Linked DNA regions of Homo sapiens. The protein of the gene in region 2 interacts with the protein of the main gene of each other region in a biochemical or structural test. Each region holds a gene or a part of one and is shown on either strand. Other genes may lie near its edges. The genes, in order: CKAP5, TACC1 and TDRD7.

The links.
Region 1: the proteins of TACC1 (region 2) and CKAP5 form a complex in vitro, tested with the Homo sapiens proteins (one study listed by BioGRID and IntAct).
Region 3: the proteins of TACC1 (region 2) and TDRD7 form a complex in vitro, tested with the Homo sapiens proteins (one study listed by BioGRID).

Annotation. Positions count from the first base shown.
Region 1 is NC_000011.10:46,742,508-46,745,394, forward strand, and holds the end of CKAP5 (cytoskeleton-associated protein 5), read right to left. Parts: intron 2,071-2,887; coding exon 1,919-2,070; intron 1,759-1,918; coding exon 1,516-1,758; 3' UTR 541-1,515; downstream 1-540. UniProt on the Homo sapiens protein: Binds to the plus end of microtubules and regulates microtubule dynamics and microtubule organization. Acts as a processive microtubule polymerase. Promotes cytoplasmic microtubule nucleation and elongation. Plays a major role in organizing spindle poles.
Region 2 is NC_000008.11:38,818,183-38,821,936, reverse strand, and holds part of TACC1 (transforming acidic coiled-coil-containing protein 1), read right to left. Parts: intron 2,416-3,754; coding exon 1,302-2,415; intron 1-1,301. UniProt on the Homo sapiens protein: Involved in transcription regulation induced by nuclear receptors, including in T3 thyroid hormone and all-trans retinoic acid pathways. Might promote the nuclear localization of the receptors.
Region 3 is NC_000009.12:97,409,976-97,413,729, reverse strand, and holds the start of TDRD7 (tudor domain-containing protein 7), read right to left. Parts: upstream 1,635-3,754; 5' UTR 1,492-1,634; intron 970-1,491; exon of another isoform or gene 886-969; intron 1-885. UniProt on the Homo sapiens protein: Component of specific cytoplasmic RNA granules involved in post-transcriptional regulation of specific genes: probably acts by binding to specific mRNAs and regulating their translation.

The DNA.
Region 1 (2,887 bases), on a different chromosome or scaffold from region 2:
TCCCAAGTAGCTGGGACTACAGGCTTGAGCCACTATACCCAGCTAATTTTTGTATTTTTTTGGTAGAGCCATGTTGCCCATGTTGGTCTTGAACTCCTGGGCTCAAGTGATTCACCCACCTTAGCCTCCCAAAATGCTACGGTTGTATGAGTGAGCCACCAGGCCCAGCCTTTGTAGCCATTCTTTCTAAATATGTCTTTCCACTATAGCAGCAAACGCCTCCATCATCCCTTCAGTGAACAAATACCCACTCCCATGTTCCCACTATAAAGGAGAGACAAGTTTAATTTCAGGAGGCTCCGGGGCCACCTGAAAACGATGACTGGAACCTTTACAGGATTAATCTTCCATCAATCTTTCATTTCTTGGACATCAATTGAATTGAAGGTGGGCTACAATAGGAAAGTTCCTTTGAACTTTATAACTGCCCAAAATCTCCTCCTGAATCCAGAACCTTTTCATCCTGAAGAGTTTTTCTGACTGTGGAGGGAGGTCCTGTGGAATTTATTCCAGAGGTGAATACTCAGCTCACTTTCTCATCCTTACTCTGACTGAATGTGAAGCAACTGTTAGCCTGGACCAAAAGAGACTCATACAACCAAGCAGCAAACCACTAAGATTTCCCAAACTCCATTAGTCAAATGAACACAAATCTAGTTGTAGTGTGAGAACCACTGAAGCCCAGCCAATCTCTGGGCGCAATCTTGTGTGCCTTTGGTCAGCAAAGTGGTAGGATGCCCAAGAGCTTCTTGAAACGACTGGTGATAATTGGAGGGAAATCATGACCAAAATCTCAAAACAAGGAAGGATGAGATTTTTCTGCTCCCTAGGAGCTGTTTGTGGAGAGCAGGGAAGGAGAGTTCCTTCCATTCCAAAGGAATAAAAGACAGCTCCAAGTCTGTGAGCCAAGAAAAAGGGAAGCTCTGTAAGCAGTAATTAACCTTTCTCTAACTGGCTGAATACCCAGCTGGTACCAAAAGTTAAAAAATTGCTGCCCAACACTCCATGATATGGAGCATCTTGGGAGTCAGGTATAGTTAATGCAAACTTTATTTATAAAAGACTCTTAAATTAGTTGTATCATGCCATGCATTCATACAGAATACAGTGACCCTTCAGGGCGACAGAGAAGAGCTCACAAACTGAAAGGAAAACTATTAAAGAGTTTCTAATATTAACTATTAAAAAGCTAGGAAAGATTAGGACAATTTTACAAATGAGCAATTAAAAAGAAAAGAAAAGGATCTGGGAACTAGACTGAGCAGAGAGGGGGCAGCTGTTTACAAGTCTGTACACTAAACTCATCCACGGACAGTCTTCTAGAGCAGCAGGACGCTGACAGAGAGAAGCAGAGTATGTACAAATACTTGTGCCACAATGACTCCTCCCCCTAGCTCCACGGCATGATACATACAACCAGTTTGTATACACTAGGCCTGCTGAGGCCATTTTAAACTATGAGGACTTCTAGTTTAGTAAACTAAAGCTGCAGGGTGCCGGGGGAGTGGGGCAGCTTCATTTGCGACTGCTCTTTATTCTCTCCAGTCTTTTTTTCAAGTCGTCTATGTTAGCTGTGGAGGAGGAGGAGGTCACAGTTCCTGAAGAGTGAGTCTGGTTAGAATCCAGGTCTGAATGCTGGTGCTGCTCCCGTGACTCCCGGAGCTGAGAGAGTTTGCTGTGGAGCATGTCTGTGGAAGAGGCGACAGTAGGAACTGCTGGTTTGGAGAGCAAAGAGGTCAAAGGAGGTCGGTCATCTTGCTATTGAGAGAAGGAGAGAGATTGTCTAAGGTCAGGTCAAGCAGGTCAAGATGCAGCTCCAGAACTACAGCAAGACTAAGCCACTTCTCTGTGGGCCAGCCTGCCTCGGACCTGCTTGTGACTACCCTCCCTGAACTGCACAGAAGAAAAGGAGCAGTACCTTTGTGTTGTCCAGACCACATCGCTGTCGGAGGATCTTTAGCCTTTCCAAGTAGACAGATGGCCCCACTTCTTCCCCATTTGTGTTACCTATGGAGGACACTGTGCTTGTGGGCGTGGGCACACATGTGACTTCCATCTGAGGGGAGATGCCTAGAGGGGAAAAAGTAGAAAGAATATTCAGATATCCACATATCCCCCTTCTAAAGTGCCTTGGTTAATCTCCCACCAAAAAGAACAATTAAGAATTTCCTATACTTGAAAACGACAAATTCCACAAGAATCTACCTGGAGTTGGTGATAAGGGTGCTCTGAAATATACAATATAAGCTTCTTGAGAATGCAAAAAACTGATATAGAAAGGCAGAATGTAAATTGGGTCATCCATCTGCATCCTGGGTTATGCAGGGGATTGTACTCCAGTAATCCCAGGGCTGACTTGGGCAATCCAAAAAGCTGAAGCTACTCCTAAGCATACTGTAATTGCCCAACTGAAAAACCCGAGGACCTTAAATGTTTGGAAGAATTAGATTAAGTTTGGACCAATGTCACATAGGAGAAACTCATTTGAACCTGTGAAGGAAGCAAGGTGTCCAAGGCTATGGTGTATTCATGGGGAAGAGAAGGTGTCCAACAATTATCTAAAGAGGGCATAGAACTGGAGTGTCTGTAACCCTACCACTAAGATCAATATTCTGGCAGGAGAGAGGAAAACCAAAACAACAAAAAATCCATCACACTTCCTAAATTTCTGAGAATGAACAATGATACAATGCGGGCCTTTAAAATATTTCACTTGGTATCAATGCAAATGCATTCCACAGGCCCCAAAGGTAAGGTACTGGGAGGAAACACTGCCTTATGGTAAATAGAAAAGTAGAAAGGTTACTCCAGGGAAAAAGGACTCCTTTAATGTAAAGATGAGGAGAATCCTCTGAGGGGGTGAAAAATGAATGAAGAATTATGTAAA
Region 2 (3,754 bases):
TATTCAGTACAATAATGTGCTGTACAGGGTTGTAGCCTAGGAGTAACAGGCTGTACCATATAGCCTAGGTGTGTAGTAGGTTTCACCACCTAGGTTTGAGTAAGTTCACTTGACGATGTTCACACAACAAAATCACCTAAGGATGCATTTCCCTGTGGCTTACCCTGTGGCTAAGTGATGTATGATTGTATTATCATCTACTCAAGTTTTGTGATAAAGTAATCCTGTAGCAAAGTTAAACTGAAACTTGATATGGAATAGGACCTTAGGTAATTACACTGAAAACACCAAGGACCTTGCAAAAGTCAGATAATTTCCCAGGAGAGATGGGGGATTGACTAAACCAACTAATTTACTCAGTTTTAACTGATCATTTAAAATATTCTTGATTCTTATTGAAATTTTACCTCCTGGCTGATGAGCCAGAAATTACACATGGAGACAAGAATTCTCATCAATTTTAGTGGTAGGTTTGTTTCCCACAAAAATCACAGCTTTCTGTTTATGTAAAAAGTCTTCTTTCTACAAGACCCTTTTGGATCATTTCCCACGTTATTGACGCTACAGAGGTAAGTTACAGGACTGGAATTTCTGTTTTATCCATAGAGTATGAAGACGGTGGCCAGCAGTGACATTTGAATTGTCTATAACACGACTCCTAACAGTCCAGCCAGGATTTCTGAAAACCATCAAATCTCTACCTGTCTATCTCATGCCATTCTTTTTTTTTTTTTGAGATGGAGTCTTGCTGTCACCCAGGCTGGAGAGCAGCGGCGTGATCTCGGCTCACTGCAACCTCTGCCTCCTGGGTTCAAGCAATTCTCATGTCTCAGCCTCCCGGGTGGCTGGGACTACAGGTGTGCACCACCACGCCCAGCTAATTTTTGCATTTTTAGTAGAGACAGGTTTCACCATGTTGGTCAGACTGGTCTCAAACTCTGGACCTCAAGTGATCCACCTGCCTCGGCCTCCCAAAGTGCTGGGATTACAGGTGTGAGCCACCGTGACTGGTCTATTTTTTTTAAACATAAAAAAGTCTCTAGGGTCAAGGGAAAAGAGCTTAGCTGATTAAGCTAAGGATTCAGAAAAAAGACAACAATCTGAAAAGGAAACCTCTGGTATTTCTGATTCCACACAACAGTTAAGCCAAACAGTGAAGACTGCAGGATAACATTATAAGCTTTGTATGAACCTCGGTGCACCTCAAAGGTAAATTCAGTTCACCAAAGCCAAAAGTAGCTGGCTGCCAAACTCAACAGACAAGACACAGAGCACGACACCCAGCGCCCACTGTCACTCACGTTATTAAACGCGACTTTGCCTTCTTGGGTGATTCTAAGATTTCATTAACGTGATTACCAGTGGGAGAACAAAAGTCACTGCTTGTTAAGGTCGTAGTTGGTTTAAAGGGATCCATGGATTCGTCAAAGTTATCTGGGTCAAAGTGGTAGGAGCCCTCAGAAGAGAGGGGTGGGGAGTTCTGCAGAACAGAGTGGCTCCCAAAGGGGTTGAAGCTGGGGCTTTCCCACTGACTAGGATCTGGCTTGGAAGATGTTTGGGAGAGAGGCCCGTCTCGTGCCACTGGGTCTGTAGGCTGTTCTAAACCTGCTGACTTACTGATGCCATCTTTTTGTATCTTGGGAGTCAGTGTGCTACCCAGTTTCCTGCCAAGCTTCCTTGGAAGGGCTTTCCTGGCCTCTATGTTTCCTGTATCTTCTGTGAAATCAAACTCAAGCTTGAGAGGTGAGCTCCTCGACTCCTCCCCCAGCTCAACCCCTGAGTCGTTGGTGTCACTACTGAGAGTGCCGGGAGTTTCTTTAAGGTCAGGGGGAGACTTCTGGAACCTGGCATCTCCTAGCAAAGGACTTGTGTTCTCATCCAACTCTTCAGGACTGAAGTGATAGGATGCCTTGGGGAGAGGTGTGCCCTCCACAGCAGCGTTGGTGTCTGAGAACTCTCCTCCAATTGCTTTCTTCCTCAGGGGGACAGGCTTGGGCTTTCTCAGCTTGCTTCTTCTGCTGGGCACAAGCTCTGGACAGGAGTTGCCAGCTTTTAGATCAGCTTCTGCGGAGGCCTCGAGGGTGACCCCCATGCTGCCTTCTGTCATCGCCTCGTCCTGGAGGGCGTCTGGCGGGCTGGAAGGCAGAGCCTTGCCTGAGACTGCAGTTACACAGCCATGAGCTGCTTTTGTTCCGAGGACTGCCGAGATATCCGTGGAATCCTTCGTTTCTATTGAAAATGGCCTCACGATGGAAATTTTGCTAAAATCATGTTCAGGTTCTTCTCTGAAATTCTTGACTGAGTGAGAGTCAATGGCCTGCTGTGGCACTTCATTTTCTGAAGGTTTAGAACAAGTCTTAGATGAACATTTTTCAACCACTTCTGCTACAAGCTGTTCATCAGCTTCTTGTGATTCTAAAATGAAACACAAAAACCATCTATTAAAGAATTATCTGTCACTGGTAAGTATCCTCTCTTACCTGAATTCATATAAACAAATAGCAAGTTCTTCCCTCTTTGCTTTTATTAAGCATCTCTAAAGTTCAGGAAGGATGGCAGCACAGCCTGAAAGAGAAGAGCTGGCACAACACCCTAAAATGAATTTTCCTATCCCAAGTTGTGTATGTGCATTATCCAAGTGATACGAATAGTAAGTACACCAAAAGAGCTATTTAGAAAAAGGATAAATAGAGCAAGAGTCTGCTGCAATGTATTATTATGTGATGTTAACATTCTGTAGGGTAAAACTGGTCTGGAGGAGTATTTAGAAACCAACAGCTATGGTGCAGGGAGGCAGATTGGTGCTGAGACAGTTCCTAAGCACAGCCTGACAGCTTCAGGGTCAGAACTTTATGCAGTGAACAGATCTGAATCTTTGAATGTTAAAAACATAAGTATCTTGGGAGGCCAAGACGGGCACATCATGAGGTCAAGAGATTGAGACCATCCTGGCCAACATGGTGAAACCCCATCTCTACTAAAAATACAAAAATTAGCTAGACATGGTGGCACACGCCTGTAGTCCCAGTCACTCAGGAGGCTGAGGCAGGAGAATCACTTGAACCCGGGAGATGGAGGCTGCAGTGAGCCGAGATTGCGCCACTGCATTCCAGCCTAGACTCTGTCTCAAAGAAAAAAAAAAGAAGAAAAAAAAAAAGCCATGTATCCACAGAACAGAATTTAAAAAGACTGTTTCAAAAATAAATTTAAAAAATCTACTGTGACCAGCTCAGAATCATCTCTCTGTAGACCTAAAAACTAAAAGAACCAAATAAGAAAGCTAATTTGAAAAACCAGATATGGAAATGGCTTTAAAACAAATAGCCCTTATTTTACTAAGACACAAATTGTAAAACAATAAAGTTATTTTTTCTTTAGAACCTCTGTCTCTAAGTCGGACCAGGAATTCTCTAAATCACTTGTGAAAAATAAAAATCCTTTTTAATTGTGGTCTTACTAGGATAAGTGCTGCAAATATTAGGAAGGTGTGAATGAGGTAATTTCGTTAAAGCAAAAAGTGATTTCCTAACGTAGATATCTGAAACAAGAGTAGCACAGAAAAACTCAGTGAATTGGTTATAATATCTCATGATTTTAAAGGAAATTAAAAGATGACCCTCTAATCCTACTTCCTAATCCTAATCCAGGATCAGAGTCAAGTACCACTGGAATATCATAGCTATAGTTTTTATTTTTGTTTTTCTTGACACAGTGTCTCTGTTACCCAGGCTGGAGTGCAGTGGCCTGATCATGG
Region 3 (3,754 bases), on a different chromosome or scaffold from region 2:
CCTGGATTGGGGCACAGGAGATGTGAGTGCTAATCCAGCTGGCCCCAGGGGCAATTCCCTATACCCAGAACAGTACTTTGCACGTAACTGATGCTCAATGAATGTCAGCTGAGAGGAAATGCAAAAATATCCACCATGTGCCCATTTATATTATATAGTAAACACAAAGATCTTTGTGTCCCTGCCCTCAAAAAACTAAAATCCAATTATGTAAAACATGGACCGTTTGTTGGGAGGAAGAGAGTGAATACTGCTTGGCAATTATTATGAGGCAAAGGATATACAGTGGTTATCTTGGAAAAGCCTTGCAAAGTAAGCCAGGTACCTCTATTTGACACATAGAAAACCAGGCTAAGAGAAAGCATGTAATTTGTTCAAGATCACACAATTTGTAAAATGAGAAGCCCAGATTTCAATCCAGGTCTGCAAAGTTCACATTATTTGCAGTATGCAACACATTCATACACATCAAGGCAGCCCAGGACGAGACAGGGATTTGGGTCCAAGTTTTACTTCTGCTATTAAGCTGTTGCCTATCTCTCTAGAGAGAACATTTCTCTGCATTTTTTTCACCGGCACGATTGGAGAGCAGAGAGGTGTTGGTAGGAGGGTTAATGAACTAGATCTGTGGTTTTTTGGTTTGGTTTGGTTTGGATGGGCGGTGATCAGAATTCTTCTGGGCCAGGACTTGTTCTAATGTGGTTGTTTCCCTTCCCTGCTCTTAGAAATTATTTGAGAATGGTACCTTTAGCTATTAATGGAAATATACCTCTCAAGTGAATGGGAGCAGAAAGATATGCCGGCTCCAAGCTCCCTCCTAGCAAGCTGAAGCTGAGAGTCTGACCCTGCTGAGGGGATGCTACTGAAAGTTGAGAGACAACTTACTCACGGATCCATGTTTCCCTCCCAGCTGGGTGCTCTGTACCCACTGGGTGCTCCTCGTTTGAGAGAAATGGGGATGTGTGTCCTGCATTACTTAAGCGGCCTGCCTGGGGCTCGTCTCCAGATTATAGAGACCTTCAAGAGAAGTTCGTGGTGTAAAATACTTGGGTTCAAATAGGGGAGCGCGGACATCCCTCGCTGGGGGCGGCGGCTGCGGCCTGTCGCGCCGGTAGCGGGAACCACTTCCTGGTCCGCATCTCCCGCCCGCGTCCACACCCCGCTGCTGCATTTCCCCCACGGCGCAGAGCTTCCGAGGCGGCAGGAGGCTCCGTCCGACTCCCGCGTGAACGCCCGGCCCGGAGCAGGGTCCCTTCAGAGATTTAAAACACAACGCTCTGGAACTCCAACTCCCCCGGCGCCCAGCCCGGTTCCCAGGCGTCGGGGCGGGGGCAATCCCCTGCGGCTGCAGGGAAAAGGCCCCGAGCCTGTTGGAGCCCCCGGCCCTGGCCGCGGTCCCACCGGTGACCCAGGTGCGCCGCGCCCGCCCGAAATCTCGTCCGACGTCGCCCGGCACCTGTCGCGCCCGGAGCCCGCAGGACCTGCACTCACCTCGTTCCGGGGGCCCACGGCCCGTCCCCGCGTCTCTGGGCCCAGCTCCTGCCGCCGTCTCCGCCAGGGGCCCCGCCGCGGCCGCCGCCCACTTTCGGTTTCCCCGCACCACCGGAGCCGCCCCGCGGCTTGGGAATCACCTCAAGCCCCCGCCCCGCCCTGCTCGGCCCCGCCCCGCTTCGCCCCGCCCCGCTTCGAGGGCAGCCTGGCCTCGGCTCTGCGCACGCGCGGGCGCTCCGGCCGCGTCGGCCCACGCCGGCGTCCGCGCGTGGGAAGGGAAACCGTCGCCACCTAGCGGTTTCTGCGCGTGCCCACGCACCGGCCGGCGGCGGAAGACGCCTGCGGGGCGGGTGCGGGAGCGCCTCCTGGTGGACAACGCAGGTACGCGCGGGCCGAGCGAGCCGGGACTCAGCAGGGGGCGAGGGTGGCTCCTTCTATGGGGCTCACCCTCCTTCCAAACAGTTCAACTCCTGCACATTATTTTCTTCAACATCTGGAGCAGTTACTTTTTATTGCCCTAGACACACACTCTGTCCGCCCATATCCTTCAGGCCTTTCTCAAGCATTACCCTTTCAATGACGGTGGACACAGTCTCTAACATGTCAACCTCCTTCCTTGACTTTCCCTATCCCCATTCTCAACCTTATTTCTCCTTAGCACCTATCTAGCACACTATATGTATTTTACTTATGCTTTTATTGTCTGCTATCCTTCTAAAATTAAAGCTCTGTGAGCACAAGGATTTTTGTTTGGTTCCTTAACCTATTCCCAGAGCCTAGGATAGTGCCTAGCACACGATCAGCAATAAATATCTGTCAAATTTATTCATTCACTCTAAAGTTATTGAACACCTAATAAGTGAATACTTATTTATTCTGCACATTAATTCCACCAACACTTATTGGCACCTGCTTTGCATCCCTGCAGCCAACATTGAACACTTCTCTGCACCATTGGATATGCATTTACTGAGAACCTGCTGCTTATTCAACCGGTATTTTATTACAGCTTGACTGCCATGTATAAGACATACAATAAACTGAACGTTTAAAATGTACAGCTTGATAAATTATGCATTTACTGAGAACCTGCTGCTTATTCAACCGGTATTTTATTACAGCTTGACTGCCATGTATAAGACATACAATAAACTGAACGTTTAAAATGTACAGCTTGATAAATTATGCATTTACTGAGAACCTGCTGCTTATTCAACCGGTATTTTATTACAGCTTGACTGCCATGTATAAGACATACAATAAACTGAATGTTTAAAATGTACAGTTTGATAAGTTTTGATATATATATATCACTGTGAGACCATCACTGCAATCAAAATCATGAACATATCCATCACCCAAAAAAGTTTTACTGTGATCCTTTGTAATTCTTATATCTTGTCCCTCCCTGTCACTTGCCCCCTCAACTGCTCACCTGCTTTCTGTTGCTATAGATTATTTTGCTTTTTCTAGAGTTATATGTAAAACTTTTATGTATGGAATCGTATGTACTATCCTTTGGGGGGCTGCCTGGCTTCTTTTATTTAGCAAATTATGTTCATCCATGTTGTTACATGTATCAATAGTTCATGTCTTTCTATTGCTGAATGGTATTGTAGGGATGTACCAAACCTACCACGCAACCCAGCAATTCTGCTCCTGGGTATTTACCCAGGAGAAATGAAAGCAGATGTCCACACAAAAACCTGTACAAGAGTGCTCATGGCAGTTGTGTTGGCCGTAGCCCCACATGGAAAGAATACAAACATCCGTCAGAAGGTGAATGGACAATCAACTAATATATATTGAACACCTGCTGTTAAATAACAAATTTTCATGGATAAGCCTGTGCTTATAGAGCTTTTGATTCAGTGAAAAGATGCAGTAGGCAATACAAAGAAAAATTGGAAGTAAATCTGGAAAACCTGATATCCAGCTCTCAGACACTTGGATGTTTCCCCAAAGGCGGTAGGGAATTGTTCAGAGTTTTTGAACAGGGCTTTTCTTTGAACACTGTTCTCTTTCATATCCTAGATCTGGTCCCTGACTAAGTTTGCCTAAATGTCTCTCTCTGGAATTTCTCTGCATCTCCTTTGCTCTATTTCAGTCTATTTCAGATGTCTTTCTGTTCTTTCCCTTCCAGTCTACTCCAAACATTGCAGTGGATTTTTAATAGACTTTGCTATGGTCTGAATGTTTGTGTCCCTACAAAATTCATGTTGAAACCTAATCCCCATTCTTGCGGTGTTGAGAGGTGGGACCT